Linked DNA regions of Homo sapiens. The protein of the gene in region 1 interacts with the protein of each later gene in a biochemical or structural test. Each region holds a gene or a part of one and is shown in the gene's direction. Other genes may lie near its edges.

Region 1 (7,000 bases):
GTCAGACCTCATAATTCTTAGGCCTCATAAAGTTTACACTTCCTAATTAAATTTGGCATGTTAATAAAACCCAGAGGAGTGTAGGGCGGAGTGCTGCTGTGGAGCTTGGCCAACCTAACAGTGCTCCTCGATTTTTTGTGTCCCTGTACACGTGTGACAGGAAATGGGGAATGTTTTAGGAAGCCCAGGCACACTGGGCTGTCTAGTCCTGAAGCAGTATCACCTTAATGCTTAAAGGTGATTCCATAAATTAGCCATACGTGGTGGCGCTTGCCTGTATTCCCAGCTACTCAGGAGGCTGAGGCAGGAGAATCGCTTGAATCCAGGAGGCAGAGGTTGCAGTGAGCCAAGATTGTGCCAGTGCACTCCAGCCTGGGCAACAGAGCAAAACTCTGTCTCCAAAAAAAAAAAGAAGCAATTCTATATTGGCTGAGTGTACCTCTGGGTTTTCTTTATAGACAAGGATTGAGTGGCTATTCATTTTCTGCCACTCAATCCTTAACATTTTGCCAAAAGTTACATTTCATCAAAGCCTATTCTCAGAAGCCCCATAGATCATTTGTGGTGTGAACTTGGCCCTGTAGCTCCCTGGAATGGGTTCTCACCAGCCTGGCTCGGCGCCACTGCCTCCTCAGGGGCCCATTGATTCCTCCAGTGAAAGGGTTGGCATTTGAGAAAGTGCTTTGTGAACCGCTCAACACCGCGTAGACCCTGTTGCGCTTTAATACTTTGATCCAGCCATATTTTGCCAGTGTCTTCTGTGGGCCAGGCAGCCATTTTGGCAAGAGGGCTGCAGAAAGGACACAGGTGAGTCAAGGTGCGTGCAGGACTGGGGTACCAGCTTCTAGCAAATGTGTATTCAACCCCTGTGTGTTCAGTCACTGGAGGTAATAGCAGTGGATGAGACTTGTCAGTTCCCTGCCCCAGGGAGCTTACGTTTGAGAGGGCGAAAGTCCAGTGCTGGGGCTGGATGGATGGAATTAGCATCCCCACCCTGGGTTCAGAGAGGCCCAGCCAGGCCTGGGCCTCAAGTCTTCCCCAGCAGGCACTTGAACAAACTCCTGGTGGCAAAGGCTGGGTCTGGCTGTTTCTCATCTACATGGGCCATTATGATCTGCAAGCATTATGCCCAGGTCCATGCAGCAGATACATACATGTATGTCAGTTATGTTAATAAATAGGTAAAGGGAGAACTGATGAGGATGGTCAGAAAGGTTCCCCTGAGGAGGGAACTTGAATGGGAACCTGAACAAAGGGATAGCCAGGTAGCTACAGAAGAAAGAACTTTCCAGGGCAGGGAAGAGCAAACATCAAAGCCCCGAGTCAGGAGCATGCTTGGAATGTTGAGGAAATCGCTGTGTGGATGGTGTGGCCAGAGAGAGCAGGTCATGAGCCAGAGTGCTGAGAGGTGACCAGGTTAGGCAGGACCTTGACACACATGAGCAGCTGTTTCCACTTTATTCGAGGGAAGTGGGGCAGGGAAGCCACTGAAAGAGGCTTTAAAAAAAAATAGCTTTATGAGATAGAATTCGCATACAGTTCACCCATTTGCAGTGTACAATTCAGTGGCTTTGGGTACATTCACAGAGTTCCACAACCATCACCACAGGCAATTTGGGAACATTTTTATTATGCCAAAAAGACACCAACCCAAGGCCAGGCACGCACGGTGGCACAGTGGCTCACGCCTGTAATCCCAGTACTTTGGGAGGCTGAGGTGGGCAGATCACGAGGTCAAGAGATCGAGAACAGCCTGGCCAACATGGTGAAACCCTGTCTCTACTAAAAATAGAAAAATTAGCTGGGCATGGTGGCGCGTGCCGGCAGTCCCAGCTACTTGGGAGGCTGTGGCAGGAGAATCACTTGAACCCGGGAGGCAGAGGTTGCAGTGAGCCAAGATTGCACCACTGCACTCCAGGCTAGCCAAGATCGCACCACTGCACTCCAGGCTAGCCAAGATCGCACCACTGCACTCCAGCCTGGTGACAGAGAAACTCCATCTCAAAAAAAAAAAAAAAAAGGATACCAACCCTTCCAGTTTCCCCATGTGCCCCCCCAGCCCCAGACAACTGCTAATCAGCTTTCTGTTTCTATGAATGAGCCTATGCTGGACATGTCTGTTAATGGAATCTCACACTAAGTGACCTTTAGTGTCTGGCTTCTCTCAGCATCCTGTCTTCAAGGTTCATCCACATTGTATAGCATGGATGAGTACTCCGTTCCTTTTTATGACTGGGTCATATTCTGTTGTATGGTTGGACCACATTTTGTTCATCCATTCATCTGTTGGTGGACATACTAGAAAGTTTGGAGCAGAGGGCCGGGTGCGGTGGCTGATGCCTATAATCCCAGCACTTTGGGAGGCTGAGGCAGGCAGATCATTTGAGGTCAGGAGTTTGAGACCAGCCTGGCCAACACGGTGAAACCCCATCTCTACTAAAAACTCAAAAATTGGCCGGGCATTGTGGCAGGCACCTGTGGTCCCAGCTACTCGGGAGGCTGAGGCAGGAGAATCACTTGAACCTGGGAGACAGAGGCTGCAGTGAGCCAAGATTGTGCCACTGCACTCCAGCCTGGGCGACAGAGCGAGACTCCATCTCAAAAAAAAAAAAAGAAAGTAAGTTTGGAGCAGAGGTTAGCTGTGTAACATGGTTAGGGTTATATTTTTGAAGGCTGGGGAGGGGACTGCGGGTGAACAGTGGGAGCCTGGGGAACATCAAGGTGGCTGCGAGGTCACCGTGGGGAAAGGGGATGAAAGCGGGAGGTGAGAGACAAGGAAGATGGGGTCAGGAAGGCTTGTTAGGAGGTGATCTTCAAGGGGGCCTTAAAGGAGGAGAAGTGTGCCTAGCTGACGGGCCAGTGGGACACAGACCACCCGCAGAAAATGAATAGCATGTACAAAAGCTGGGGGCAGGAGAGAACGTGACCATGTGCATTGACGCATGGTGGGGCCTAAGGCCCTGTGTGCCTGGGGGTTGGTCAGCTGCAGGGTGTTGGGGAGCAAGGGACTCAGGCCTGCAGAGGGCTCTGTTGAGACCCACTCCGTACAACTGCCTGGGGTGGGGAGGCGGGTTCAGCTGGCAGCAAGGGACAAGAGCAGGGCTTTGCCACCCGCGCCCCCTGGGTTTGCTCTGCACTGCTCCCATCAGCTCTTGGAGAGGGAAAATATCTCCAAGTGTTTCCAGATCTGGATATTCCGACATCCTGCATGCCCAGCACCAGGCAGGGTCTCCGTAAGCCACAACAGCTGTCACCTGCACAGGTTGGTGGCGCCCAGCTCAGACACAACTTGGGAAATGGGCTGACAGTGACGTGCCTTTTTTCTTTTTTCTTTCAGGAATTGACTTTAAAATTAGGACCATAGAGCTCGATGGCAAGAGAATTAAACTGCAGATATGGTAAGAGTCATTGTTCTCTGTCATTCTCTCCACCTGGCAATGGCTTCAAGCCAGAAGCCCTTGGCCTTCTCCCTCCACCGTCCCTGTGACCTTGGCCTCCATTTCTTGGTGCCCAGTCCTGGCACATGGGGCTTTCTCCAGAAGCTCCTGGAGGTTTATACCCAGCCCAGAGAGCTGTCCTCTGCTGGCTGCAGGGCACCAGGGCCTACAGCATCATAGGCACAAAGCTGCCCAGCCCTGGCTAGCTCAGTGTTCCACAGTGGGCACCATCTGGGTCTGGCCTTCAGAGTGGGCTGCTTCTGTTGAACGGGAAGAGAGCCCTCTCAGTGCCAGGTGCTGGTGACGCCTGCAGGGACTGTGAGATGCCCCAGCCGAGAGTTTCCTTTTGAGCCTCTCAACCCACTCAGAAGCATAAAGGTCCAACTTCACTTCCTCTTTTCTCCCCTGGGGCAGGCCTGGCCTCCCTTCCTAGCGTACAGACCGAAACCCCAAACCGAAATTAAGCGGAGGGCCGGGCCCCATGTTGAGACCTGTTTCCATTCCTGAGAACTAAGGGTGACTTCCCATGCACATACAATTAGGGAAGTGGGGAGACTCCAAGTCGCCATCGCTGGCCTGATTCTAGTTTGCTGAGACTGAGTTCAGGTGGCGGGTATAGTGGGGTCCTGCCCTGCACACATGCCACTCGCACAGAGTCACTGGCCCTGAGCAAAACAAAGAGAAGTCACATTTAAGAGCATGGTGCAATTTCCCTGTCACCCAAACCAGGCAAGTGCCTTTGAGTGGGAGCAGTGTGCCAGGAGATGGGCCACGAAGTCATCCTCCCTCAAGTCTCAAAGTTTGACCGGTCACCCCCACTTGCCAGTTTCAGGGAGCCCCACAGCTACCCTTGACTCCAGGTGCTATTCACCTCTTCTTTTTTTTTCTTCTTTTTTTGAGACGGAGTTTCGCTCTTGTCGCCTAGGCTGGAGTGCAATGGCGCGATCTTGTCTCACCGCAACCTCTGCCCCCCGGGTTCAAGTGATTCTCCTGCCTCAGCCTCCCAAGTAGCTGGTATTACAGGCATGCACCACCACGCCCAACTAATTTTGTATTTTTAGTAGAGACGGGGTTTCTCCATGTTGGTCAGGCTGGTCTCCAACTCCCGACCTCAGGTGACCCACCCACCTCGGCCTCCCAAAGTGCTGGGATTATAGGCGTGAGCCACCACGCCCGGCCCTACTGTTCACCTCTTAATCTGACTTTGGGAGTCGGGTAGGTTTAACTTGCAGTTCATCCTGCAGACATTGGTAGTAAGTCAAGCTCTGGCTGCCTTGTAAGTTCCAAGCCATGGAAGTTTCTCCACTTCCAGCACGTTGGTGCCATGTCACCCTTTGTTCCCAAGTCCAAAGTGACACTGCATCAGCAAGCAGAAGTTTCACTTTCCTCCTGCCTTCCTGCTTCTGCTCTTAGCAATCGTGGTGAGGTTAGTGACTCAAAACTCTTCTAAGGACTGTAGTTGAAAAAAAAATGACTGGTTTTTTTTTTTGTTTCTTTGTTTTTTTGAGACAGAGTTTTGCTCTTGTTGCCCAGGCTGGAGTGCAGTGGCACGATTTTGGCTCACTGCAACCTCCGCCTCCTGGGTTCAGGCAATTCTTCTGCCTCGGCCTCCCAAGTAGCTGGGATTACAGGTGCCTGCCACCACGCTCGGCTAATTTTGTATTTTTAGTAGAGACGGGGTTTCGCCATGTTGGCCAGGTTGGCTTCGAACCCCTGAATTCAGGTGATCCACCCGCCTCGGCCTCCCAAAGTGCTGGAATTACAGGCGTGAGCCACCGCACCTGGCAAAAATGACTGTTTTTAACCACTCATGTCTCCTGCTGCTGGTGTCAGAAAGTCAGCTTAGCTCCAAGCAAGGTGTTTCTGCACAATCCAGACGTATAGAGCCCTCCGGGTCCCAGCAGGGCCGTGGGAGGAACCCTGGGCTTGGAGACAAAAGACCTGAGTCTTGCCCTGGCTCTGTCACCAATCAGTTAGGTCACCTTTAATTTTTTTTTTTTTTTTTTTGACAAAGTCTCACTCTGTCACCCAGGCTGGAGTGCAGTGGCATGATCTCAGCTCACTGCAACCTCCACTTCCTTGGTTCAAGCAATTCTCGTGCTTCAGCTTCCCGAGTAGCTGGGATTACAGGCACCTGCCACCATGCCTGGCTAACTTTTGTATTTTTAGTAGACAGGGTTTCACCATGTTGGTCAGGCTGATCTCAAACTCCTGACCTCAGGTGATCTGCTGGCCTCAGCCTCCCAAAGTGCTGAGATTACGGGAGTGAGCCAACACGCCTGGCTTTTTTTTTTTTTTTTCCTGAGACAGAGTCTTACTCTGTCACCCATGCTGGAATATAGCGGCACGATCTCAGGTCACTGCAACCTCCACCTCCCAGGTTCAAGCGATTGTTGTGTCTCGGCCTCCTAAGTAGCTGGGACTACAGATCCACGCCATCATGCCCGCCTAATTTTTGTATTTTTAGTAGAGATGAGGTTTCATTGTGTTGGTCAGGCCGGTCTCGAACTCCTGGCCTCAGGTGATCCACCCGCCTCGGCCTCTTAAAGTGCTGGGATTACAGATGTAAGCCACTGCACCAGGCCAGTTAGGTTACCTTTTTTTTTTTTGAGACGGAGTCTTGCTCTGTCACCCAGGCTGGAGTACAGTGGTGCAATCTCGGCTCACTGCAGCCTCCACCTCCTGGGTTCCAGCAGTTCTCCTGCCTCAGCCTCCCAGGTAGCTGGGATTACAGGCACGTGCCACCATGCCTGGCTAATTTTTGTATTTTTTGTAGGGACGGGGTTTCACCAAGTTGGCCAGGCTGGTCTCAACCTCCTGACCTCAGGTGGTCCACCTGCCTCGGCCTCCCAAAGTGCTAGGATTACAGATGTGAGCCACTGCGCCCGGCCAGTTAGGTTACCTACCTTTAAACCAAACACTAAGTACCCTTCAAGCCAGGAGCTGGACTGGGCATGGGTATGTCTTACCCAGGCATCACCTCCCGGGCAATAGGCCCTGTGTTCCTTGTCATGCAGATGAGGAGGGACTTTCCCCATCATTCAAACCAAGATGGCAGGCCTGAAAGCTTTTCCTGAGTCCCAGCCACCCTCAACAGCAAGAGCTATGTTCCTGAGCCACATGACTGGCTCTTCTGTGAACCAGAAACTCCAGGGAGAATTCCCTGGAAGCAAAGGTGCAGAAGAGGAGAAGGCGCATGGGTCAGGGATCCCATCATGGCTCTGCCACATCAAATGACCCCTCCAGGCCACAGTGTCCTTCCCTGTAATAATAGGGAGATTAGAAGGTGCTGCCTTAGCAGAAGAAGGTATCACAGTGGCTGAACGGTGAGAAAGCCAGGCATCCCGGGTAGATGCTCCTTGTCTCCTACTGAGGACAGTTATTTTCCTTTAATGTTGCTAATATCCCTTCTCTTCATGTTTAGGGACACAGCCGGTCAGGAACGGTTTCGGACGATCACAACGGCCTACTACAGGGGTGCAATGGTAGGGACTTTTTGTTTGGTTGTTTTTATCTGCTTTTTAAGTCAACATGGGAGCGTCACTGTGCATTGGTTACCGAAG
Region 2 (8,228 bases), on another chromosome or scaffold:
CTGATTTTTGCTTTGAGATTGCATTCCTGATGCCAACTTTGACCTAGTTGGAAGTACTTCCTCTCTCTTACTTTTTTTTTTTTTTGAGGCAGAGTTTCGCTGTGTCGCCCAGGCTAGAGTACAGTGGCGCGATCTTGGCTCACTGCAAGCTCTGCCTCCTGGGTTCATGCCATTCTCCTGCCTCAGCCTCCCGAGTAGCTGGAACTACAGGCGCCCGCCACCATGCCCGGCTAGCTTTTTGTGTTTTTAGTAGAGACGGGATTTCACCGTGTTAGCCAGGATGGTCTCGATCTTCTGACCTCGTGATCTGCCCTCCTCGGCCTCCCAAAGTGCTGGGATTACAGGCGTGAGCCACCGCTCCTGGCCTCTCTATTTTTTAAAAGTATGAGTCTCTGGGTGGAAATCTCTAAAGTTTAAAAGTGGAAATGTAAAAATGTTGTGCTTCTTGTTGGTAGGAAGGGGGACTGCACTGGGAGGAAGGGGTGTGGATTGTCAGATGTCTTGAGGCTTTTCAGGCTTCTCGCAAGATCAATAAGAGGCTGGAGAAAGTTACTGTGCAATGGGGAAGTGAACAGCTCAAAAGAATAACGGATGGCACAAATTAGGCTTCTGGTTTCAAGTTACCCATAGCCTTTTAGGTATGAGGTGGTTATTGGATTATGGAACTTTATGGAAAAGCCGTAGCTGAGTGCTATTTGTGTTGTACTTAACTAGTTTTCTACCAGGATGACTGTGCAGTCTGGAGAAACCACTGTGTAACATAAAAGAAAAAAGTGCTATTCTGTTTAAAAGTGTTTTGAAATGTTCAGAAAGGAAGAGGCCAGAATCTCTTAGAAGACAGACTTGGAAGGAGTTGGGCCCTTCAAAAGGTGGTAAATATGTGATTCTCATCATTTAATATATGTTAACTTATTTGAAACTCAAATTTGTACAAAAAGCTGACCAGCTTCTTTTTCTACTAAATTTGTCTCCCCAGCCTTTGAACATTGCAGTGACCTGGGGTTCAGTCCCTGGACTTTTCTCCATCTAAAATCTTCACAGAGGCTCTCATCCAGCTGCATGGCTTTGAAGAACATCTGTCTAGACTGTTGTCACTCCCAAATTTATGTTTGTTACCCAGGCCTTTCTTCTAAGCTGCAGCCTCATATATCCAATGACCTATTTGACATCTCTGCTTGCCTATCAGATAGACCTCTCAAATGTAACGTGGCCAAAACGGCACTCCCGATTGCCCTTGTATTCCCACCCTCTTCCCTCAGCACTCCCTGTCTCAGTAAAATGTCACCATCATCCATTCAGTTGCTCAAACCAAGAACCTAAGATCACCCTTGATTCTTCTTTTTCTATCACTGCTCTCCACCCAATTTAATTCATGAGGGAGTCCTGCTGACCTGATCTTCAGACTGTATCATGTGTTCTGCCACACGTCTCCATCTCCTCTGCCTGTCACCCTAGTCCAAGCCACCACACGTCTGCCACAAACATTCTTGCATAATGCTCAAGGATATATATATACACAAGTATTTTTGTGGGATAGCTTTCTAATAGGAGAATTGTTAGGTCAAAGGACATATACATTAAACAATTTAAATAGGCATCACCAGAGTGACATCTAAGAGGGTTTACCCTTTCACCATTGCGAGTGGTTTTCCTCCTGCCCTTGCTGAGGATGGATGACGCTTTTAATTTTTTCCAATCTGATAGGTGAAAAATAGTATCTAACTGATTTAACTTGGCATTTCTCTGATCACTAGTGTGGCTGAGCATCTTTTCATTTGTGCTAGCTATTTGTATTTTTCCAAGACTTGCTCCTTTATATCCTTTGCACATTTATCTTTTGGGTTATATATTTGATTTGTTTGTAAGAACACTATATTTATTAGTTATATTTACCCATTGCCTATTATATAGTGCAAGTTTTTTTCTCTCTAGTCTGTCATATGTCATAACTTTGTTCATGATGTGTACCCCTCTCGTAATCAGATAAAACCCACTATAAAACATTTAAAAAACACGTTCATTAGATTTGGCAATTAGGAGGCCAATGACAACATCAGTGCAGCAGGAGGAGAGAAGGCAGATCGTAGAGGGTTGGGCAGTGAGGACTGAGAAGGACTGATAAAAAATATGGTAGATACACATGGACATGGAGAGTGGGATGATAGACAATGGAGACTCAGAAGGGTGAGGGGTGGGAGAAGGGTAGATGATGAGAAATTTCTTAATGGGTACAATGTATGTTATTCAGGTTATAGATACCCTAAAGTCTCTGACTTAACCACTGCATATGTAACAAAATTGCATGTGTACCCCATAAATTTATATAATTAAAAACATGTAGTATATACATTGAAGAAGCTTGGCTATGATGGGAAGGAGAGAGTGTTCCTTATAGACAGTAAGGCACAGGGGATAAAAAGGCTGTTTTATTTAATTTTGTTTTACTTTAAATATAAGAGATAGATGAGCCCATTTATGTGCAGATGGCATACAGCTTGATGATGCAAGGTCCCCGAGAAAGTCAGAGGGTGGGAGTGCCAGAGTGAAAGAGGAGAAAAGACTAGCCTTAGAGAAAAAGTGGTGGCTCTTCCATTGAAACAAGAGGATTCACCAATCCTCTTGGTAAAAACTATGGAGAAGGAAGTACCTGTGGAGGGACAGGATTTTGAGAGAGCCCCTCCGCCCCCAACAAGAGAGTGAAAGGTTCACCAGAGAGTAAAGAAGGCAAGAATGGTGAAGGGTTGGAATAGCATTTGAGAGAGACGAAAAGAGGAGTTCTTTAGGGGCATATCATCCAGGTTATGTATGTGTATTTCAAAATATCATGCTGTACACCATAAATAGACACAATTTTTGTCAAGTATACCTCCATAAAACTGGAAAAAAGTTTTAAAATGGCTTGGGTAACTTGAATTTGTCTCTGCCTCAAGTCGCAGAACCCTGTATCCATTCTGTCTGGCAGCACTCATCAGACCAGGAACAGAGTGTGGACAATCTAGTATGGGGAATTTTTTCCGGGTGGCCGTGACAGAAATAGGGAGAGGGCTGGAGATTGGATGGCCCTGGCAGAAGAATAGTTGAAATGATGGACCACTGTGGCTTTCATATTCATATCTGTGACTATCTAAACCTAACTTGACCTTGAGTAATTTTTAAGAAGTAGAAAATTTCCATGGCATCTACACTGCTTCTTGTTTGTAGCTCTATCGATTCAGGCATCAGAATACCATTAGTATCAGTGTCTTTAAACTCATCAGAAAGCGTGATTTGATTTACTGAGGGCCTATGTTGTGCCATGCTCTGTGTTGATTTACTGAGGATTTACGTTGCACCAACTGAGAGCCTACAGTCAGGATCCTACAATGTAGATTTATCCATCTATCCATCCATCAACCCAGCTAGATGCTTGAGGTATGGCTGAGAAGAAGGTAGACAATGGCCATTTTTCTCCTGGAACTTATTTCGGCAGGGGAAGTGTATATTAAATATTGTATCACATAATTTTTTAATTACAATTGTGATAAGTTCTGTGAAGTTCAGTTTTCTTAGAAATCAGATTGTCACATTGCTTTTTAACAGGCCTTACTAATTTACATTTGCCAACAAAATATGAGAATATCTCTTAAATCCTTTTTAAAAACTGAAAATTGTCTTTCTGAAATTTTGCTGAATTAATAAGCAAACATAAAAAAATCTTTATTGCCAGTAAGAGTGAAACTTTTTCTTTTTGATGTGTATTGGCCATGTGATTTTTCCCCTTTAAGAATTATCTATTCACGCTCTCTGTCTATTGGATACTTACCTCTTCTTGTTTTTAATAGATCTCTCATTCCATGTTTGAAACCATTAGCTACACTTCTCTCCTTTCTCTCTTAGCCCTGGTGACCTTAAAATATTTTCCCCTAGTCTCTACGGCCATTCCCTTTTGATCTCCTGTGAAATTTTTTTCTTACCTAGAAGTGTTGCTGTGCTTAGGGATGGGACTACATTTTTATTACTTGACTCAATAAAAGGTAACATATAAATCTTCTGTTCCTGCTTATCCCACTCTCCAGAGGTAACAATGTTAAGATTGTATTTCTTTCTAGACATTTTTCCATTCATCCATGATCCAATCTGTCTAAAATGTAAACAAATAAAAATGGAATCATAATATATATGATTTGCAATTTTTTTAATTTAATATGCTTTCAGTGTCAGTATATATAGAACTACAGTACCTTCTTCTTTTTTTTTTTTTCTTTTTTCTTTTTATTGATCATTCTTGGGTGTTTCTCGCAGAGGGGGATTTGGCAGGGTCACAGGACAATAGTGGAGGGAAGGTCAGCAGATAAACAAGTGAACAGAGGCCTCTGGTTTTCCTAGGCCAGAGGACCCTGCGGCCTTCCGCAGTGTTTGTGTCCCTGGGTACTTGAGATTAGGGAGTGGTGATGACTCTTAACGAGCATGCTGCCTTCAAGCATCTGTTTAACAAAGCACCTCTTGCACCACCCTTAATCCATTCAACCCTGAGTGGACACAGCACATGTTTCAGAGAGCACAGGGTTGGGGGCAAGGTCACAGATCAACAGGATCCCAAGGAAGAAGAATTTTTCTTAGTACAGCACAAAATGAAAAGTCTCCCATGTCTACCTCTTTCTACACAGACATGGCAACCATCCGATTTCTCAATCTTTTCCCCACCTTTCCCCCCTTTCTATTCCACAAAACCGCCATTGTCATCATGGCCCGTTCTCAATGAGCTGTTGGGTACACCTCCCAGACGGGGTGGTGGCCGGGCAGAGGGGCTCCTCACTTCCCAGTAGGGGCGGCCGGGCAGAGGCGCCCCTCACCTCCCGGATGGGGCGGCTGGCCGGGCGGGGCGCTGACCCCCCCCACCTCCCTCCTGGACGGGGCGGCTGGCCGGGCGGGGGAGCTGATGACCCCCCCACCTCCCTCCCGGACGGGGCGGCTGGCCGTGTGGGGGGCTGACCCCCCCCACCTCCCTCCCGGACGGGGCGGCTGGCCGGGCAGAGGGGCTCCTCACTTCCCAGCAGGGGCGGCCGGGCAGAGGCGCCCCTCACCTCCCGGACGGGGCGGCTGGCTGGGCGGGGGGCTGACCCCCCCCACCTCCCTCCCGGACGGGGCGGCTGGCCGGGCGGGGGGCTGACCCCCCCACCTCCCTCCCTGACGGGGCGGCTGGCCTGGCGGGGGCTGACCCCCCACCTCCCTCCCGGACAGGGTGGCTGGCCTGGCGGGGGCTGACCCCCACCTCCCTCCCGGACGGGGTGGCTGCCAGGCGGAGACGCTCCTCACTTCCCAGACGGGGTGGCTGCCGGGCGGAGGGACTCCTCACTTCTCAGACGGTGCGGCTGCCGGGCGGAGGGGCTCCTCACTTCTCAGACGGGGCGGCCGGGCAGAGACGCTCCTCACATCCCAGACGGGGCGGCAGGGCAGAGGCGCTCCCCACATCTCAGACGATGGGCGGCCGGGCAGAGACGCTCCTCACTGCCTAGATGGGATGGCGGCCGGGATGAGGCGCTCCTCACTTCCTAGATGGGATGGCGGCCAGGCAGAGACACTCCTCACTTCCCAGATGGGGTGGCGGCCGGGCAGAGGCTGCAATCTCGGCACTTTGGGAGGCCAAGGGAGGCGGCTGGGAGGTGGAGGTTGTAGTGAGCCGAGATCACGCTACTGCACTCCAGCCTGGGCACTATTGAGCACTGAGTGAACGACACTCCGTCTGCAATCCCAGCACCTCGGGAAGCCAAGGCTGGCGGATCACTCGTGGTTAGGAGCTGGAGACCAGCCCGGCCAACACAGCGAAATCCCATCTCCACCAAAAAAATACGAAAACCAGTCAGGCGTGGCGGCGCGCGCCTGCGATCGCAGGCACTCGGCAGGCTGAGGCAGGAGAATCAGGCAGGGAGGTTGCAGTGAGCCGAGATGGCAGCAGTACAGTCCAGCTTCACCTCTGCATCAGAGGGAGACCGTACCTTCTTCTTTTTAACAAAGGCACAATATTCCCTAATATGTGTGTACAATAACTAGTCAGTTTCCTTTGATGGATGTTTATGTTCTTTAATTTTTTTTTTTTTGCTGTTTCAAATATTGAGCATCCTCAGAATATATATTTGTGAATTTACTTGAATATCAGCAGAATAAGTTTCTCAAAATGAAATGGCTATGTTAAAAATATGGTCAGTGGTACTAAAGATCCAGAGAAATCTAGGAAGACCAAGAACTGTCTATTGGATTTAGGAAGTTCTTGGTGACCTTAGAGCAATTTCAGAGAACTGTGAGGCAGAAAGCTAAACTATGGTGGGTTGAGAAATGATTGGAGAGATGAGGAAGTGAAGGCAGTGATTATGTACAATTCCTTAGAGAAATCTGTCTGGCTTTGAAGAGCAGAGAAAGGGTAGTAGCAAGGAAGGAGTTGAGATTGAGGACCTGTTATTTATTTATTTATTTATTTATTTAGGAAGGACTTGAGTTCCTTTAAAGGCTGGTGGGAAGGAGGGACTAATTAATAGAGCAAAATCCTTGGAAGGCAAAGTCCTTATGCCAGATGGGAGGGGATCCAGATTGAGGTAGAGGATTATCCTCAATAGGCATAGATGAAAGTAGGTTCATAGATTTGGCGGCAGGAACTTGTCTGATGGTATTTCTATTTCTCTATGATATAATAGTTAAGGCCAACCTCTTAGAGCAGGGGTTAAGATGGGACAAGGTTTGAGTTAGATATTTGTGGTATTTGAAGAAGGTTTGAAATAGTTATTGTGGAGAACAGGAGAGCAGCCTAGGGAAGCATAGTTGCAGTGCCAGGCAGGGTTAAGATGAGCTTGGTGACCAAGAATTCATATGGATAATAATCTACCAGAGTGTGATTTTTTTTTCTCCAGTAGATCTCAGGAGTCCTTGTGCATGCATAAAGTATAACAGTTGGGCTTAGAAGAGCTATGGTTTTTTAAATCAGATATTTGCAGTGAAATTATGCATTATTGAGGATATTGACAAGAGTGCAGTTGAAACAATAGAATTGGCTGGGTGCGGTGGCTCACACCAGTAATCCCAGCACTTTGGGAGGCTGAGGCGGGTGGATCACCTGAGGTTAGGAGCTCGAGACCAGTCTGGCCAACATGGTGAAACCCCATCTCTACTAAAAATACAAAAATTAGCCGGGCATGGTGGCGCACACCTGTAATCCCAGCTACTTGGGAGGCTGAGGCAGGAGAATCGCTTGAATCCAGGAGGCAGTGGTTGCAGTGAGCCAAGATCATGCCACTGCACTCCAGCCAGAGCAATAGAGAAAAAGTCTCAGAAAAAAAAAAGAGAAAGAAACAATAAAATTTAAATGTTATTGGGAAGGAAGTAAAGATGGGAAGGAGCTGAGGAGGTGAAAGCAGAAGGGTCTATGGAAGACTGCCCCCATCCAAGAAATCTGAGAACAGGAATGGGGCTAGTTGGGGGGCTCATTGGCTGAATAGGCTAGAAGCACAGCAGGTTGTGGTCAGAGAGGGGGTGTTGAATCAGTGATATCAAAGGTGGAGAAGTCCTAGATGATAAGCTCTTGGGTGTGGCTGAATATGATATATGGTATTCTTGATGCCAGCTCATTCATTCAACAAATATTTATTTTGTGCATATTATGATCCAGGCAGTGCTCTAGGCACCAAAGGTACAGAAATGAACAAAACAAAGTCCCTTCTGTCATACAGCTTACAATCTAGTGGGGGAGATTATTTTTATAAACTAAAAGAACATCCTTATTGATGTGCTGATTCCTGTATGTGTAGCTTTATTTGTAACTAATGATAATACCAGGATCAAATATTTACATATATGGGGGCTAAGAAGGTCCATCTAGGCATTTTGAGTATCTTGCTTTATCTCAAGTTATACTTACTGAATTATGAAAACTCATACCTCTTTTCCCCTTAGAACTTTTTAAGGTATTTTTACTTACTATGTCAGTATTGAAAATAAACAAATATATACAAATCTAATTTGAATATTTCATTGGTTTTAATTTTTTATACTGTATTTTTTAAAAATATTAGGATATTGCTTCAAGCTGTAGACCAGATGTTGATAATGCATGTACTAATCTTGCTCTAGGGATTTGATGTAATGTGTAAAGTAATTATGGTTAAGCAGTTTAGGAGGGAAAGAGGGCTTGTAATAAGTTAATATTTTATGTTTATTTTTATATTATTCTCCAATTTATTTTATTATTTATACCTACCTTT
Region 3 (8,228 bases), on another chromosome or scaffold:
ATGCTATACTTATCAGAACCTTTTAATCTGAAAGCTAAACAGCTAGATATAAATTTGTCTACCCAACATTTGTACAAAGTAAAAATTATTAGAATATTCATTTCAAATTATGTGTGATGTTATCATATAACATATTATAGATTAACTCAAATTATTCTTAACTGTTACTTAACTATGACAAAACAACTTAGAACGCTTTGCTAATACACAAGATAGTATAAGGATAAAAATTCTTTATAGTACTAGCTCATAAAGAGTGTTCTATGGAATAGTAGTGGATGTCATTTAATAACTATAAATTCAAAATAAGCATTGTAAATATCAATACCATTCAATTTTTTTTTGTTTTTTAAACAAGTTGTAAGCCTACCCTATGGTAAATGGATATGGTAACACAGCATAATTTCCTCAAAAAATTACTTTTGTGATATACTTTTAAAGGATTATATGAATATATACATAATTATAGATGAATGTGATGCTGTGTGTCATTGTATCACCAAATCTCTGTCCAATCTGTTAACAGACTCTTAAATAAACCATTTTTCTCAAGTTGTTACTGGCCTGTATACTGTATTACTTGTTTTTCAGCTTTCCTTGGTACATTCTTAAATTTCTGCATTCCGCCACCATGCTATCACCCTAATGGATCAACCTTTTTTGTTTTGCTCCATTCTCTCTGTTGTAAATCTGAAATTGATAATTTGTTTGTCTCAGAAAATATTATTTTTCAAGTTCTAGCGTATTGCCTACAAAAACCAAAAGAATTAAGTGTCTGACACTGTGAGGTTCAGCAAAACTGTGCATATATTTTGCTACCTGATTTTTTGCCAGCAAATGAGTGTTTTCTATTATAAATATAGTATATATTGCTTAAAAATTTGGAACAGAAAAGAAATTACTCCAATTAGGATGCCACCTAAAGTATAAGCATGTAGCTGTACTTTGAGAACACTAAATTGCATGCAGGTTTGTAGTGACTAGGTCTTCTTGCCTTTACTGAAGGAGCAGAATGAAGTCACAGATAATGGATAACCAAATCCATTTTGTGGTAAGAACTTCCTTACTTTCAATGTCTTGAAGAGATGAAGTATGTTACCAAAGGAGATTGGGTTTTTTAATATTACAGATGAGTGACATAGATTGTTTGGGAGTAAGTTTTTATATGTAAGTTTTTATGTTTTTAAACACATACTGACAACTTATGACAAACCTTTGGAAAGTTTTAAAACTCTGTTGAAAGGTTGTGCAAGCTGCTGATGGAATCTGTGAGCCTTTCTTGTTTCTTATCACGTTTTTTGGCAGAGCACATTTCTTCCTTCCCACCAACAGGTTTTGCCCTTTTTTTTCCCATTAAGATTCCTCCTGAGATTGGCTGTCTTGAAAATCTGACATCTCTGGATGTCAGTTACAACTTGGAACTAAGATCCTTTCCCAATGAAATGGGGAAATTAAGCAAAATATGGGATCTTCCTTTGGATGAACTGCATCTTAACTTTGATTTTAAACATATAGGATGTAAAGCCAAAGACATCATAAGGTTAGATAATTTTTTTCTATTTGGTTTTACTAAATTTATTTCAGATTTTCTACTCTCTGTGACTTTGATGGACATATATTGTTACTATTTAGGGAAAAATAAATAGTAATATTTGGCATTAATATGCTGTGTGTCATTTGCCTTTCATTTAATGAATGTGTTTCTGTGGTGCCACTGTAGAGATTTCTCATTCTTCTTAGCCAGACTAATGTTGAGAGCGGCTTCTCCTCCTTCTGTTTCTTTTCAGTGGAGTAGACTCTAAAAGAAAATAAGTATTGCTATTTGGTCTCTGGTTACCAATTACACAATCTAAAGAAATACAGCACAGTATAATAACTTCTCACACTGTATTTCATATAGCAACTAGTTAACATATGCCTCTTACATCTTAAAGCATTATAGCTACTGACATCATGTGAAATTACTAACTTCTATTTTGCCCATTAGGATGAGTAATCTACTCACCTTGATCAGTTTTGAAAGCACCAAAACTTCTCAAGTATCACTGTTTCTGGTCTTTACACTTTAAGCACTTTAAATATCTTTGGTAATGGATTTTATCCTCCTTTTTGTTCCCTTTCAGCACATCGGTCTTATTACTTTCTCATAAAATCCTTTGCTCCCTTTTCCACAGTTACTGTATTAACGTTGCAGACCTCAGCTCTGTCATCACCTCTCAACTTGACTGTAATATCCACCAAGGCAGAGACCATGGCTGTGTTCACTCACTATTCAAATCTTGGCACCCAACACAGTGCCTGGCATACAATTAATAGTTGTTTAATTACCAGTGATTTATACTTACTCATTCTCTTCTGCCTAAAATCTCTTAAATTTATATTTAACTTCATCTGTTTTTATGAGGAAGGATTTTGTTTTCTGAACTCCTGAGCTTGATTTCATTTTAAAGGAGTTTGTTATCTTTTGTGCTAATTGTGGCTACCCTTCATCCTACCCAATTATTTTTCTCTCTTGAAACTGGAAAAGATGGTCATATAAAAATTGGTTCAGTTCTTACTAAACATTTAGTAGAACTAGCTTTCAGTGTATTATACTGTATTATCTAACTAAATATTTTTAATATTTAATATTTAATTTAATATATAACTAAATATTTTTAAACATGTTTAACATTTTCAGAAAAGACAGAAAGACCTAGAGCAGATTAGAAATTGTAGGCATCATTTGCTTTTTGAAGAAAGACATTTTTTCAAATAGTGGTGCATTCTTAAGAAATAAATCAAGAAAGGTAATGTTGCTTTTTGGTCATATCATCAGGAATGTTGGTCAGATTCTTATTAGTTACAGGAATGAATTGATCACTACTCTGATGTAAAATTCACTTATGATTTAGTCTTTTTCTCTAATTTGAAACTGTGGCAACATTTTAACATATTTCAAAATATATCTTTCTCTATCCATTATATTTTTGATAACACTTTGACTCTACTATTAGTTTAAAGGTGGTTTTTTAGCTACCTAAACACTTCTATTTCATTCAGGTTTTACATTAAGATCATTAGGAATGAAAGCTAACATCTGCTGATAGTATAATAGTTTATATTTATTTATGATGTTATGTGATCTCACTATCCATATATACTATTATATGCATATGTGATATACATGAATATATAGCTATACATCATATATACCATATATGAATATATACACACACATATATAATGTAACTAATATGACCCTATTATCAAGCTTTAACAGTATACATATATCTCTACCTTGTTTCTATGTCATATGGACTTTGTGAAATTTTGAACTTTATAATTTATAGGGTTTTTCTTTTCTTTTCTTTTCTTTTTTTTTTTTTTTTTGAGACTGAGTTTCACTCTTGTCACCCAGGCTGGAGTGCAGTGGCCTGATCTTGGCTCACTGCAACCTCTGCCTCTTGGCTTCAGGCGATTCTCCTGCCTCAACCTCCCAAGTAGCTGGAATTACAGGCACCTGCCACTGTTCCCGGCTACTTTTTGGATTTTTAATAGAGACGGGGTTTCACTATATTGGCCAGGCTGGTCTCAAACTCCTGACCTCATGATCCGCCCACCTCGGCCTCCCAAAATGCAGGGATTACAGGTGCGAGCCACCGCACCTGGCGTATAATTTGTAGGGTTTTTCATACTATTTAAAGACATTAGAATATGTATACATGTATGTATATGTGTGTATATATAGAGGTATATATATATTGCATATCGTATTCTAATTAGTATTGCAAACATATTTTGGCCTTTTGATTATTTCTGGTGATAGTGTAACATGTTTTCTTTGGTGATTTTACCAAACATTATCAACTACCCTAAAATCTCTAGCAAAATATATGCATTAACAGTACTCTGAAAGACATGTACATTATTAGTTATATGAGATATGCACTCTTCTGGATACTATATTTTAGAATAGTGTGACATGTAAAAGAACTCACCTAAATCTCAAGTATACTTTTAAGCAGTTTATTATTTTATTTTTATCTTTCAAATACTAGGTTTCTTCAACAGCGATTAAAAAAGGCTGTGCCTTATAACCGAATGAAACTTATGATTGTGGGAAATACTGGGAGTGGTAAAACCACCTTATTGCAGCAATTAATGAAAACCAAGAAATCAGATCTTGGAATGCAAAGTGCCACAGTTGGCATAGATGTGAAAGACTGGCCTATCCAAATAAGAGACAAAAGAAAGAGAGATCTCGTCCTAAATGTGTGGGATTTTGCAGGTATTTCTTTCTATAGAATTTTAAAATTCACTTTTACCATTTGTTTGGAACAGGGATTCAAAAACTGAGCTTTCTGTTCTAATATCCAGAAACCTGGTAGACTGTATGGAATTATTCCAAAGCCCTTCATTTCTCCTAATTTTACCCTTGCCTCCAGAATGGAGAAGAACATGGAGGGATATGTTAGGAACAATTTGGTGCTAGGTACTTTGATCGGTTGCTGACAAATATGCTAAAAGTGGTCAATCCTAGTAAAAACCCAGAATAGTTCTCTAAACATGGTCTGTTGTTTTTCTCTTATTAGTATGCTAAATAATAAATAGTATTATTCTCCCAGATTTTTTTTTAAAAAAGGATTCTTGCCTGTCGTTTGAAAGATTAAAAAAATTTGTCTCTAATCTTTATTTAGGTCGTGAGGAATTCTATAGTACTCATCCCCATTTTATGACGCAGCGAGCATTGTACCTTGCTGTCTATGACCTCAGCAAGGGACAGGCTGAAGTTGATGCCATGAAGCCTTGGCTCTTCAATATAAAGGTGATTTGTTCTGATCATTTGAAAATAGAAAATAATTCATGTGTCTGTGTGCGTGTGTGTGTGTGTGTGTAAGTTAATTTATTTTGGGCAAACAATTGCTTCAGTCTCTTTAAATACTTTCTTAAAAGAAGCACTAAAATTTTGAATTGGGAAACTTTCCGAGTAATGAAGTCATAACATGAAAATTGTATGTTCCATGTTGGTGAATGTTATTGGTAACCTGAAACTCTTTTATGCTGTAAAACTTGAAAATATATATGTTCAACTGTTTTTTAATTATATTATTTCTTAAATGAAATCTAAATTTTTCTAATTTAAAATAAGCTATATTAAAGAAAAGCAATCTATATATATATATCTCATCAACTTTGTACTCAGGGGCCATTTAGTGTGAAATTCTTCAGATTGTATCCTTTAAGTGGTCCCAGATTATTATGCTGTTACATCTGGAATCTCCCTTTTGTTGCTTTTCTATCTTTTCCTTTGTTGTCTTGTTGTCAGCTATTCCTTCAAACACTATGGCTTTTTAGAATGGAGACTAAACTGCTGCTTGCATGATGCTGCAATGAACTCTTCTGTGCATAAAGTCCTTAAAAAGCTTGTGTCAGGACATTTAACCATGTAATTGGCTGCATACATGCTTGTTTTGTAATTTGGGTATTTTTTAATGTTTCTTTTATTAACTTTTTTACAGCTAGCCAACGTGAGCAAATAGTACAGTGGCAGTCATATTTGCTTGAGTGGCTTTTATTCTTTCATTGTAGACTCCAAATTGGTTGACTTTAAAACGAATTTAGAAGATTAAATTCACAGATAAGGAAGAGAAAATATAAACTATATGACGTTAATTTGATATAATTTGTGGGTTTATGAAATGCTTATTTTATTTAGGAGTGAATAACTCATCTTAAGGCATGAAGATGGGAAAGGAAAACTATACCACTACCGTTATATATGCCACCTAAAAGGGTGAAGAATTGGGTTAAGAAAGGCCAAAAATGACTTTTTAAAATGTCGTAAGGTTACATTTTTTTCTTAGGTTTAAGGAAAAAAGGACAGTTGTTCTTTTCTTCTTCTGAAGTCTGCTAGTTTCTCTTTTCCATTCAAGTGAATGTCACGGAAAGCAAATATCAACAGGAATGTGAGCAGGCCCAGTTTGAAAGCAAACACAAGAGGGTTTTGTGTCTTTCCCTCCAGGCTCGCGCTTCTTCTTCCCCTGTGATTCTCGTTGGCACACATTTGGATGTTTCTGATGAGAAGCAACGCAAAGCCTGCATGAGTAAAATCACCAAGGAACTCCTGAATAAGCGAGGGTTCCCTGCCATACGAGATTACCACTTTGTGAATGCCACCGAGGAATCTGATGCTTTGGCAAAACTTCGGAAAACCATCATAAACGAGAGCCTTAATTTCAAGGTAACATGGTAGGCTGGTAGAGAAATGTAATTTATTGATTCTCAACTGCCTAGAAATGTCAGAAATTTTGAGAAGTGAGCAACTCACTTAAAATTGTGGGTTTTCTTTCCTTGTTGCTGTTAGCATTATTAAAGTCCTTTCCATTTTAAAATTATTTATGCCAGACTTCATTTCTAATTCATAGAAATGGGAACAAAAAATAATTAGAGGAACCTGAGAGAAACTAAGAGACCGTTTCTGGGATACTGAGAAAATGTTTCTGAGAGAGAATCTGAGAAAATGTTTTTGATGCCTTTTCTGATTCAACTTCTTATAGTGGTGATTCAATCACAAGGGTAAAGGTGAATACTGAGGTCTTGGGATCATCTTTCTTCTATTATTCTTTAACTGTTATTTTTCCATTTCCTCTTTTCTTTTGGAATTCCTGTTTTATGGACATCTTGATCTTTTGTGCCACTCATTCATGAATTTTGTCACTGTGATTCCCATTCCAATTTTTTTCCCTCCGTATTGTGAGGCAGCTGTTTTATTTAGTCATGAAGACCACTAACTTGGTTTTCAGCAGTGTCTCACTAATTACTTAGTTCATACAAAATGGGCTTTTTATTTTAGGAATTATGTTTTAAATGTTTAAAGTTATCTTCTCGTAAGCCAAATTTTTATAAAATGTAAATAAATCAGTTATCAGAGAGAACACTTTTTTTTTTAAATACTTGGCAGAAAAAAGAAATCTTCACTGGGTACTACAGGGAGTGTGGTGTAAACTGTACTGAAAAATACCCTTGATAGTTCCATATGACAAACATAATGATGAATTTCACTTAGTCTGTCTTGGCTTAGCTCAATAGCACTAATGATCAAGATACTGGCTGATAAATAGAGTCCTATTTGGCCTGGGCAGTCCCAGCATAATTATGTAATAGTGTCCCACTATATTCTCAAAAGCATTCCAATTTGGATGATAAATTATATAGTCACCTTGGTTATAACTCCATGCTGGCCAGTTAGCTTAGTTCTGTTCCATTTATATAGATTATGTGTGCTTCACTCCAAAACCTAATGAGCCATTTGTAAAAGTGATGGCTTTTGCGGTGCCCAGGGAGAGAATTTGTATGTTTGTATCCTTCAACACACATTTATTACAGTTATTAAAAGGTTTTATTGATGATAGATGGTAATGTCATGTAAAAATGACATATTATTTATTTGTAGACTTTCCTATTCTCTTGTTGGACATGTAATTAGAAACTAATATGACTTAAAGAAAAACAAATACACAAAATTTATTCATCCAATTAATCTCTTAATCCAGGTGTTTTTTTTTTCTGAGACTATACCCATACTTCAATAACTTTGTTGTTACTGAGAATATTTTGAGTTTCCCTTTTTGTCATTGTTGTCAGAGAATGTATCATATCTTTAAAAAGACTTGTTGGAGGATGAGTTTGTTTTGAAAAGGCCTGAATTTAGTTGATGCAAAGTCACAGATAAGATGGTTCATTAAGCTGTATTAATACTGCTTTTGTCTAATAGATATCATTACCAATAAGTCAGACTAGTTTTTCTTTTGGCACTTATAAATCACCTTTGAAGACAACTTTTTACAAGGAAATAAAACAAATGCTTTGAGAAATACCAGTATTATTGAAAGAAAAGTATATATTGCTAATGGATGCAGCATTCTGGCATAATGGTTTGAAAACTCATTTGATTGCTTTGTAGAAGAATGACTCTTTCAGATGACCCAGGGCCTGTGAGCCTGCCAGAACTTGAAAATTCTTTCTTCCCTGAGGTGCTTCAACCTGAATTCAAAGAGCAGCTTTTAATCTATTAGAGATCATTTTTTGTCCTCTCATTTATTTTTCATATTTGCCTTTGATCTTAGCTCTTCTCTAATCTTTTTCTGTCTCAACCTTATTAACAGGTGTCTGTGCAGACACTTTTAAGTTTTGTTTTTTGGCTCAGCCTGTCAGTTAACTGATAATCATGCTGAAAGGAGAAGCAG
Region 4 (8,228 bases), on another chromosome or scaffold:
GTTTTATCCTGCTCCTGTTTTAAGGAAGAAAGACTTTGGGGCTTTTCATTTAAGATCAGAATTATTTATTGGTCTTAGAATAGATTTTAAATTTTATCAAGACAATCATGACTTTACTTTTGTCCATTTTGAAATTTTAAAATAATAATCATTAATAATAGTAACTGTTCCTCAGATAGCAGCTAGTGGCTGTGTGGCAGGGACTATGTGAGGCAATTTGCACACATCTCATTTACTCCTCACAACAACGCTTTGAGTTAAATACAGTTGATCCTTCAACAACATGGGTTTGAACTACACAGATCCACTTATATCCAGATATTTTCAACCAAATGCAGATGGAAAATACAGTATTCACAGGATGTGAAACCCACGTATAAGGAGGGCCAACTGTGGGACTTGAGTATGCGTGAATTTGATTATACACAGGCCATGCCAGAATCAATCCCCCACAGATCTCAAGGGACAACTGTATTTCCCATTTAACAGATGAGCAGATGGAGAACAGCAAGTTGAAATAACTTATTTAAGAGCATTCAACTAGGAGGAGAGCTGAGATTCCAATCTTAAGTTGGCTTAACTCCCAACTCTGTGCTCTTTCTACTACCCCACAATACCTCTATAATTCTATAGAACTTGATGAAATATACCTTTAGATAACTTCTTTTAGCCCATCTAATTTCTAGTTTGTACTTGCAGGCTGCCCCTTTTTCTTCATTTGAATTCTCTTAATCCATTTTGAGAGGGTATCTTTCCTCAAACACTAACCTCTTTGGTTAGATCAGGTATGCCTGGCTTTTTTGTTTACATTTCTTTTCAAAACCTTCAGATTTTTTTGTTTGTTTTTGTTTTTTGTTTTTTGGTTTTTTTTTTTTTTTTTTTGAGACAGAGTCTCGCTCTGTCACCCAGGTTGGAGTGCAGTGGCACGATCTTGGCTCACTGCAAGCTCCGCCTCCTGGGTTCACGCCATTCTCTTGCCTCAGCCTCCCGCCCAGCTAATTTTTTGTATTTTTAGTAGAGACGGGGTTTCACCATGTTAGCCAGGATGATCTCGATCTCCTGACCTTGTGGTCCACCCGCCTCAGCCTCCCAAAGTGCTGAGATTACAGGCATGAGCCACCGCTCGCAGCCAACCTTGGGATGTTTTTAATACTCCATACACATTAATGCAGAGCTTCTAGTGGGATATTTACATTTTTTTTCAGGCTTCCTGTGTATTTATGTATATCTTTAATAAAGATATGCCTTTTGAGTTTTTAATGATTTTTAAATTATACAGCAATGACAAGTGCTTTTAAAAAAATTAAAAGGAAATTTAAGCAGAATTGACAGATAAGGCAGAAGTTCTTCAATCCCTGTTCTGTCTCCTACTCCCAACTTTGCCTAAACCCCCATTCCCCAGCCAGGCCACTACCCTTAGGAGTTTATATCTTTCTAGACCAGTGCTGTCCAATAGAGCTTTCTGTGATGATGGAAATGTCCTGTATCTGTGCTGTCCAGTCCAGTGGCTTCTAGCAGCAGGGGGCTATTGAGTACTTGAAGTGTGGCTAGTGCAACTGAGAACTGAACTTCTAATTTAATTTAATTTAAAGTAATTTAAATTCAAATTCCCTATGTGGCTAGTCACTATTGTACTGGACAGTGCAGTTCTAGACCTTTGTATATGCTTTTTTGTTCACTCATAGACAAAATACTGATTTGTGTGTGTCTCTATATCATAAACGGTCTTATATGTATGTGTTGGTCTGCAACTTGATTTTTTTTTTTAACTCAGCAGTGTGTCTTGGAGAACCTCCCATCTTATTACATAAAGACCTAGCTCATTGTACTTTTTTTCAAATTCCTAATTTTGTCAGTAATTTCCTTTACTAAAATGGATGTGTCAGGTTGTGAAATTCTTTGGGGTTCCCCCCCTCCTCATTATCTTTGATTTGCCATTAAGTGCTGTGATCATGATAACCCGCTGAGAAAAAGTTTGATTTTATTGAGTAATCACCCCATGTTTTGGATTCTTGGGCATGCTATGATTAGAGGCTTTAAAAACCACACTATATTTTCACCACCATTGGCACCAATGACTGTTAACAAAGGAGCCAAGTGCACCGTGGCCAATTAATTTCAGAAGACTTTCTGTGGGCTGGCTGAGATAGAGCTAGGATAGGGTTCCAACCCTGCACTTGGTACTGTGATCTGTTGCATTGGTTCTCAGACTTCAGTGGATGTAAGAATTGCTTAGAGAGCTTTAAAAAAAGTGTGGATGCATGTGTCCTCACCCCTAGAGGCTGTGATTAGTAGACCCAGGCAGCTGTGCTTTTAAGACATACTCAAGTTGATTCTGTCACATATCTAGTATATTGGAAAGAGTCTTAAACTAGTCCAGATGTCACCTTTGGTATTCACTGTAGCAGTGAGCAAGTTTGTTGATTGTTTTGTATCTTAATGTTCTCAACTATCGGAACAAAAATATTCCTTGCTTTGGTAGCCTTCCAGGTTGTGAAAATAAAAAGACATGTGCAAAATACTTTTGGAAATTAAAAGTTGCAAAGTTTTGTAAAAGTATAAAATTCATCTTAAACTAATGCTATACTATGGACCCTGGTGATGGTAAAGTGATTGTTTGATCCTCGGTTCTCTAAGAGTTACAGTTCAAATATGTGAAAAACTTCCCCAGTCTGAGATACTTGACTCAGCTTTGATGTTCTTATTTTCAACATTTTAAAAAATTTTTATTTCACTTCAAGTTGTGGGATACAAGTGCAGAACGTATAGGCTTGTTACATAGGTATGTGTGCCATGTTGGTTTGCTGCACCTATCAACCCATCATCTAGGTTTTAAGCCCCACGTGCATTAGCTATTTAACCTTAATGCTCTCCTTCCCCTCGCCCCACTACCCCGAGTGGCCTGGTGTGTGTTGTTCCCCTCCCTGTGTCCATGTGTTCTCATTCTTCAACTCCCACCTATAAGTGAGAATATGCGGTGCTTGGTTTTCTGTTCCTGTGTTAGTTTGCTAAGGATGATGGCTTCCAGCTTCATCCATGTCCCTGCAAAGGACATGACTTTTTTTATTTTTTGAGGTGGAGTCTTGCTCTGTTGCCCAGGCTGGAGTGCAGTGGTGCAATCTTGGCTCACTTCAACCTCCGCCTCCCGGGCTCAAGGGATTCTCCTGCCTCAGCCTCCCAAGTGACTGGGATTACAGGCACCCACCACCATGCCTGGCTAATTTTTTTTTTGTACTTTTAGTAGAGACAGAGTTTCACCGTGTTGGCTGGGGTGGTTTCGAACTCCTGACCTCTAGTGATCCTCCTGCCTCGGCCTCCCGCAGTGCTAGGATTACAGGTGTGAGCCACTGTGCCCAGCCTGATCTCATTCCTTTTTATGGCTGTATAGTATTCCATGGTGTATATTTACCACATTTTCTTTATCAAGTCTTATTATTAATGGGCATTTGGGTTGGTTCCATGTCTTTGCTATTGTAAGTAGTGCTGCAGTAAACATATGTGTGCATGTGTCTTTATAGTAGAATGATTTATATTCTTTTGGGTATATACCCAGTAATGGGATTGCTGGGTCAAATGGTATTTCTGGTTCTAGATCCTTGAGGAATCGCCACACTGTCTTGCACAATGGTTGAACTAATTTACACTCCTACCAACAGTGTAAAAGCGTTCCTACTTCTCCACAGCCTCACCAGCATCTGTTTCCACATCTTTTTAGAACCTTTGCTGCATGTATCAATTTTTTTTGACATGAATTTTTGTGAAATTTCCTAGTCTAAAAAAGAAACCGATATCTCAAGTTAAAATCTGTTAGTTATGTTAATTTTGGCATTGGTTTGTATGAAGTTTTAATATTTAAAAAAACACAGCTATATCAGGAAGCTGAAAGTGCTGTGTCAGGTGGAAAATTTTTTTATCAGTGGAGATGTGTTTATACGTTGTCATGGTTTTACTCTAGTCTAGGACATTTTGTTTCAGCCATTTTCTAAAATGGCTGTAGGTTCCATTTATTAATATATCTCTGCTATTATGTAATCTGAGCAGTGATATTATACTTCTTGGTATTGTACATAGAATCTAATAGAGTTAAAAGCTTTTTAATAATATTTGCTGCCACCTCACCAAGTTATGATTGTTAGAAACAGTAATTGCTGTGTTTTGACACTGTCATTTTGTACAGTGCAAGCAATCATTTTTACCACAATTATCACATTTTTTCCACTACCAAATAACTTAACAATGAAGCAAGAAAATATTCTTCCCAAATATTTATTATTACCAAGCTTCTTAACGTAGGGGTTTAACTTTTACAGGACGTTAGCCAATTAATCTTACCTTTACCTTAAAGCGTGTGCTTCTATAATGCTTTGTTCAATTTATGTTTGCTTTAGTGACCTTAAAAATTGTTAGAGACTCTTGGAGGTATAAAAGTTGAGAACACATAAAACTAAAGCAAGGATCTGTTTTCTTTCAGGTGCAAGCTGTGGATGAAGCAAGATATAGAGAGTGTTTGAGGATGTTGTTTGCACCACAGTTTATTTTAAATAGTTACTGTAATGACCAGTTTTAAATTGTTAGATAATCTCCAAGGGAGATGAGCTAGAAGGATATAAGACTGAAAAGAGGATACATTTTCTTTCAGGTGAAGGTTGTGGATGAACGAAGGTACCGGAAAGTCTTTGAAGATAGTGTACGCATCATGGACAGAATGGAAAATGACTTCCTTCCTTCCTTAGAACTCAGCAGGAGGGAGGTGAGCAAAAATACATGATCTCCCTGTCTACTGCTCACTGTGGTTAGCACAGAAGAAACTGCTACTTAGAAAAGGCTACATAGCAACGTGGTTAAGCCCATGTCGCTGGAGTCAGACTGCCTCCATTCCAGTTGTAGCACGGCTGTTTAGTAGATGTATGACCTCAGGCAAGTATCTTACCCGCTCAGAGCCGCAGTTTCCTTTCCTGGATTAAGGGGTAGTTGTAAGGATTACATGAGTTAATACATGCAAAGCTCTCAGAACAGCACCCGGCACATAGTAAGCCCTCCGCTGTTAGATGCTCTTATTTAATATTTCAGAGTTGCTAGTTAATTTATATCTCAGAAACCAGGACTTGGTCACAGGATGAATACTCTGAACCAAGGTTGGGTTACCCTCTTAGGATCCTAGGAATGATCAGAGTAGCCTGGAGAAGTAGCAAGAGCCACCTAACTCCTTCTCTGCTGGTGTGAGTATAATAATACATGCAAGTGGATGTTGTGAAGTTGGTTCAGTTGGTGAATGTCTATGGCATTTGCACACCTGCTTAACAATTACCTTACTCCTCATATCCTCTATGGAATAATCCAACTGACTTACTTCCCCTACTAGTGATGCATGTTTGTGTCTGTCTGTTATTCCCCAGTTTGTGTTTGAAAATGTGAAGTTTCGGCAACTACAAAAGGAGAAGTTCCAGATCAGCAACAATGGACAGGTTCCCTGCCATTTTTCTTTCATCCCTAAACTTAATGACAGCCAGTACTGCAAGCCATGGCTTCGGGCTGAACCTTTTGAGGGCTACTTGGAGCCAAGTGAGTTTTCCCTTTACCATTGTCTCTGCTGGTGATGTCATGACTCCCATCCCCTTGGTTTAACTTTCTGTTTTCTAACCACATGTCTCTTACCTTTACTGTCATATTGGTGATACCTCTGGTGTGTGTCCTGTCTCTTCCCCCTCATTGCTTAATGATTTTTTTAGAGGACACTTTTCTGTTGGTTCTTATACTCTTTTTTGCTTTCCCACTGGAGGTTTTCCTATTACCATGTATCATCTCTTACATTTCAGATGAGACAGTGGACATTTCTCTTGATGTGTATGTCAGCAAAGACTCTGTAACCATCCTGAACTCGGGAGAAGATAAGATTGAAGATATTCTCGTCCTTCACCTGGATCGAGGCAAAGATTACTTCTTGACTATCAGTGGAAATTACCTCCCAAGTTGTTTTGGCACATCCTTAGAGGCTCTGTGCCGTATGAAAAGACCAATCCGAGAAGTTCCTGTTACCAAACTCATAGACTTGGTAAGAACTGTCCCAAGACATAAACCTCTTTTACATTTAATTTTCACAATACTTAAGTGACGTCCTCATTATCTTTGTGCTTTCTGTCTTCTTTTGGCCACGGGGGATGTCAAATGATAAAGAAGAATGTTACTTTAGCACTGTTTTGATTAGATTAAGCCTAAGGGGAAAGAGGGGGGACTAATCTGCAGTTGGCTCTTGTTGTGAGTACAATACATAATACTAAGCTCACCAAATAAGATTAAAGACTCCCCTCTCAAAGATATAATGCTTGTTTGTTAAGCTCTTCATACTCTCAAGTCACTTTTGTATAAATTAGCATGTACGTGAGGTATGCTAAGTGGGGCAGGCAGAATTATCCTCATTTGAGCATATGAGAAAACTGAGGCACAGAGACATTGACGTGCCCAGAGTCAAATACCATCAGTTAGTAACAAATCTAGCACCCAGATTTCCTGGCTCCCAGTTTAGTATTCCTCACTAATACCACATTATATCTAATCAGAGTAAAACTTTGCTATTTATGGAAGCATAGAACTATCCTGGAACCCTGGAGTACCTGAATCAGAATCCCTGGGGGTGCTTATTACAGGTACCCTCACTTCTGGCAATGGAATCAGAATCTCAGGATATGGAGCCTACAGATCTGCATTTTATCCGCATTCCAGATGCTTATAATGTACATTGAAATTTGATACTTACTTAATGTGATGTGCTTAAGAAAGAAAAGGAGGTTGATTTTCCCACCTCTCCCTCAAGCCAAGCTATAATATTAATGTTTTTATGAAGGAAGTACTTACTATCTTCAGTAACATAAGTTGATTTAGTAATAAAGTTCATTGTATTAAGAAATTTCCTTCTAAATGAAAATATTGTTGGATTGTATGCAGAATCTCTTTGGGCTACAAAAGTATATTCTTGGTTTTTTTACCAAAGAAAATTAGGTGAGGTGACAGCATACGTTATCCTTACCATTAGTATTCACATGGATCCTTTAGGCCTAGCCAGAGCGAGTGATTGTATCTAGCAGGGAGGTCTAGACCAGCAGGCAGGCTGCTGGCTTGTCTGAGTCCGATCTGTTCTGTTGCCATGGAATTGTTTTAGCTGTGACTCAGATAGCAGATTAAAACACTGAGTCCAGCCCCGGCATTCTTTCTTGGAATTATACTTATTTCCCCAGAGCCCTCATGACTGAGTATATTACCTCTGTTTGAGAGAGAACCATTTTCTTCAGAAATTCATATCCTACCGTTCTGCTGTTTTTCATGATAATTGTTTTTCTCCTAACATTATATTTCTGTCTTTTAGATTTTAGTATTTCACCTTTTAGAATACATTTTGGATGATGAAGTTGTTTTTCTTATTTCTCCTACCCCCTTTCCTTCATCTCAGACATTATTTCCCAGCTTTCTTTGTTTCAGCTTTTTATTATGAAAAATGTCAAATGTGCAGAAAAATGGAAAGAACAGTACAACACACCCCCACATGCCTTCTGTACATATATACACACAGATGTTTTTTGCTGTGTCATGTAAAATTTAGTGGTAATATGTCACTTCACCACTGAACACTTCAGCCTGCATCTCTTAACAAAAAGGGCACACTTAAGCACAATACCATTATTATGTATAAGAAAACTAACAGTAATCCATAGTATCATTTAACATTCGGTCCATATTCAGATTTCTTCAGTTGTCCCAAGAATTTCTGTTATACCTTTTTTTAAACCAAAATCCAATCTGGGTTCATATAGTATTTGGTGAGGTCTCTGAAGTCTCTATTGGAGTAGTACAGTTCCTACTTTCTTTAGTGACATTGACTTTTTTAAGAGTCCAGTACAAATGTCCAGTCAAGGGTCAACCATTTCCTAAATTTTTCTGGTTGTTTCCTTCTTGTTTTTTTTTTTTTTAAACTTATCCCATTTATACTCTCTCCTTCCACCTTCATGTAAACAGGAACCTACCCTTATTTTTAGTCAGAGTCAGTGAAGATATTAGAATATCTTTGCCATTAATATGAAAAACTGCAAAGCCATTAATATGAAAAACTTTGCAGTTTTTCATATTCTGGGATTGGCCAGAAGAGGCTCAACCCTCATAAAGTTTTTATTTTATGTAAAGTATACTATCAGGTAATTTTACCATGTTTGCCCATGAACAGAAAGGAACCAAAATCA

What was found.
Region 2: the proteins of RAB8A (region 1) and SYTL4 form a complex in vitro, tested with the Homo sapiens proteins (2 studies listed by BioGRID).
Region 3: of the proteins of RAB8A (region 1) and LRRK2, one has a biochemical effect on the other in vitro, tested with the Homo sapiens proteins (2 studies listed by IntAct).
Region 4: the proteins of RAB8A (region 1) and OCRL form a complex in vitro, tested with the Homo sapiens proteins (2 studies listed by BioGRID and IntAct, with this or other methods).

Annotation. Positions count from the first base shown.
Region 1 is NC_000019.10:16,114,889-16,121,888, forward strand, and holds part of RAB8A (ras-related protein Rab-8A), read left to right. Parts: intron 1-3,337; coding exon 3,338-3,398; intron 3,399-6,861; coding exon 6,862-6,922; intron 6,923-6,950; exon of another isoform or gene 6,951-7,000. UniProt on the Homo sapiens protein: The small GTPases Rab are key regulators of intracellular membrane trafficking, from the formation of transport vesicles to their fusion with membranes.
Region 2 is NC_000023.11:100,720,894-100,729,121, reverse strand, and holds part of SYTL4 (synaptotagmin-like protein 4), read left to right. Parts: intron 1-8,228. UniProt on the Homo sapiens protein: Modulates exocytosis of dense-core granules and secretion of hormones in the pancreas and the pituitary. Interacts with vesicles containing negatively charged phospholipids in a Ca(2+)-independent manner.
Region 3 is NC_000012.12:40,304,427-40,312,654, forward strand, and holds part of LRRK2 (leucine-rich repeat serine/threonine-protein kinase 2), read left to right. Parts: intron 1-1,358; coding exon 1,359-1,540; intron 1,541-4,040; coding exon 4,041-4,270; intron 4,271-4,679; coding exon 4,680-4,807; intron 4,808-6,004; coding exon 6,005-6,223; intron 6,224-8,228. UniProt on the Homo sapiens protein: Serine/threonine-protein kinase which phosphorylates a broad range of proteins involved in multiple processes such as neuronal plasticity, innate immunity, autophagy, and vesicle trafficking.
Region 4 is NC_000023.11:129,570,501-129,578,728, forward strand, and holds part of OCRL (inositol polyphosphate 5-phosphatase OCRL), read left to right. Parts: intron 1-4,639; coding exon 4,640-4,750; intron 4,751-5,396; coding exon 5,397-5,562; intron 5,563-5,816; coding exon 5,817-6,052; intron 6,053-8,228. UniProt on the Homo sapiens protein: Catalyzes the hydrolysis of the 5-position phosphate of phosphatidylinositol 4,5-bisphosphate (PtdIns(4,5)P2) and phosphatidylinositol-3,4,5-bisphosphate (PtdIns(3,4,5)P3), with the greatest catalytic activity towards PtdIns(4,5)P2.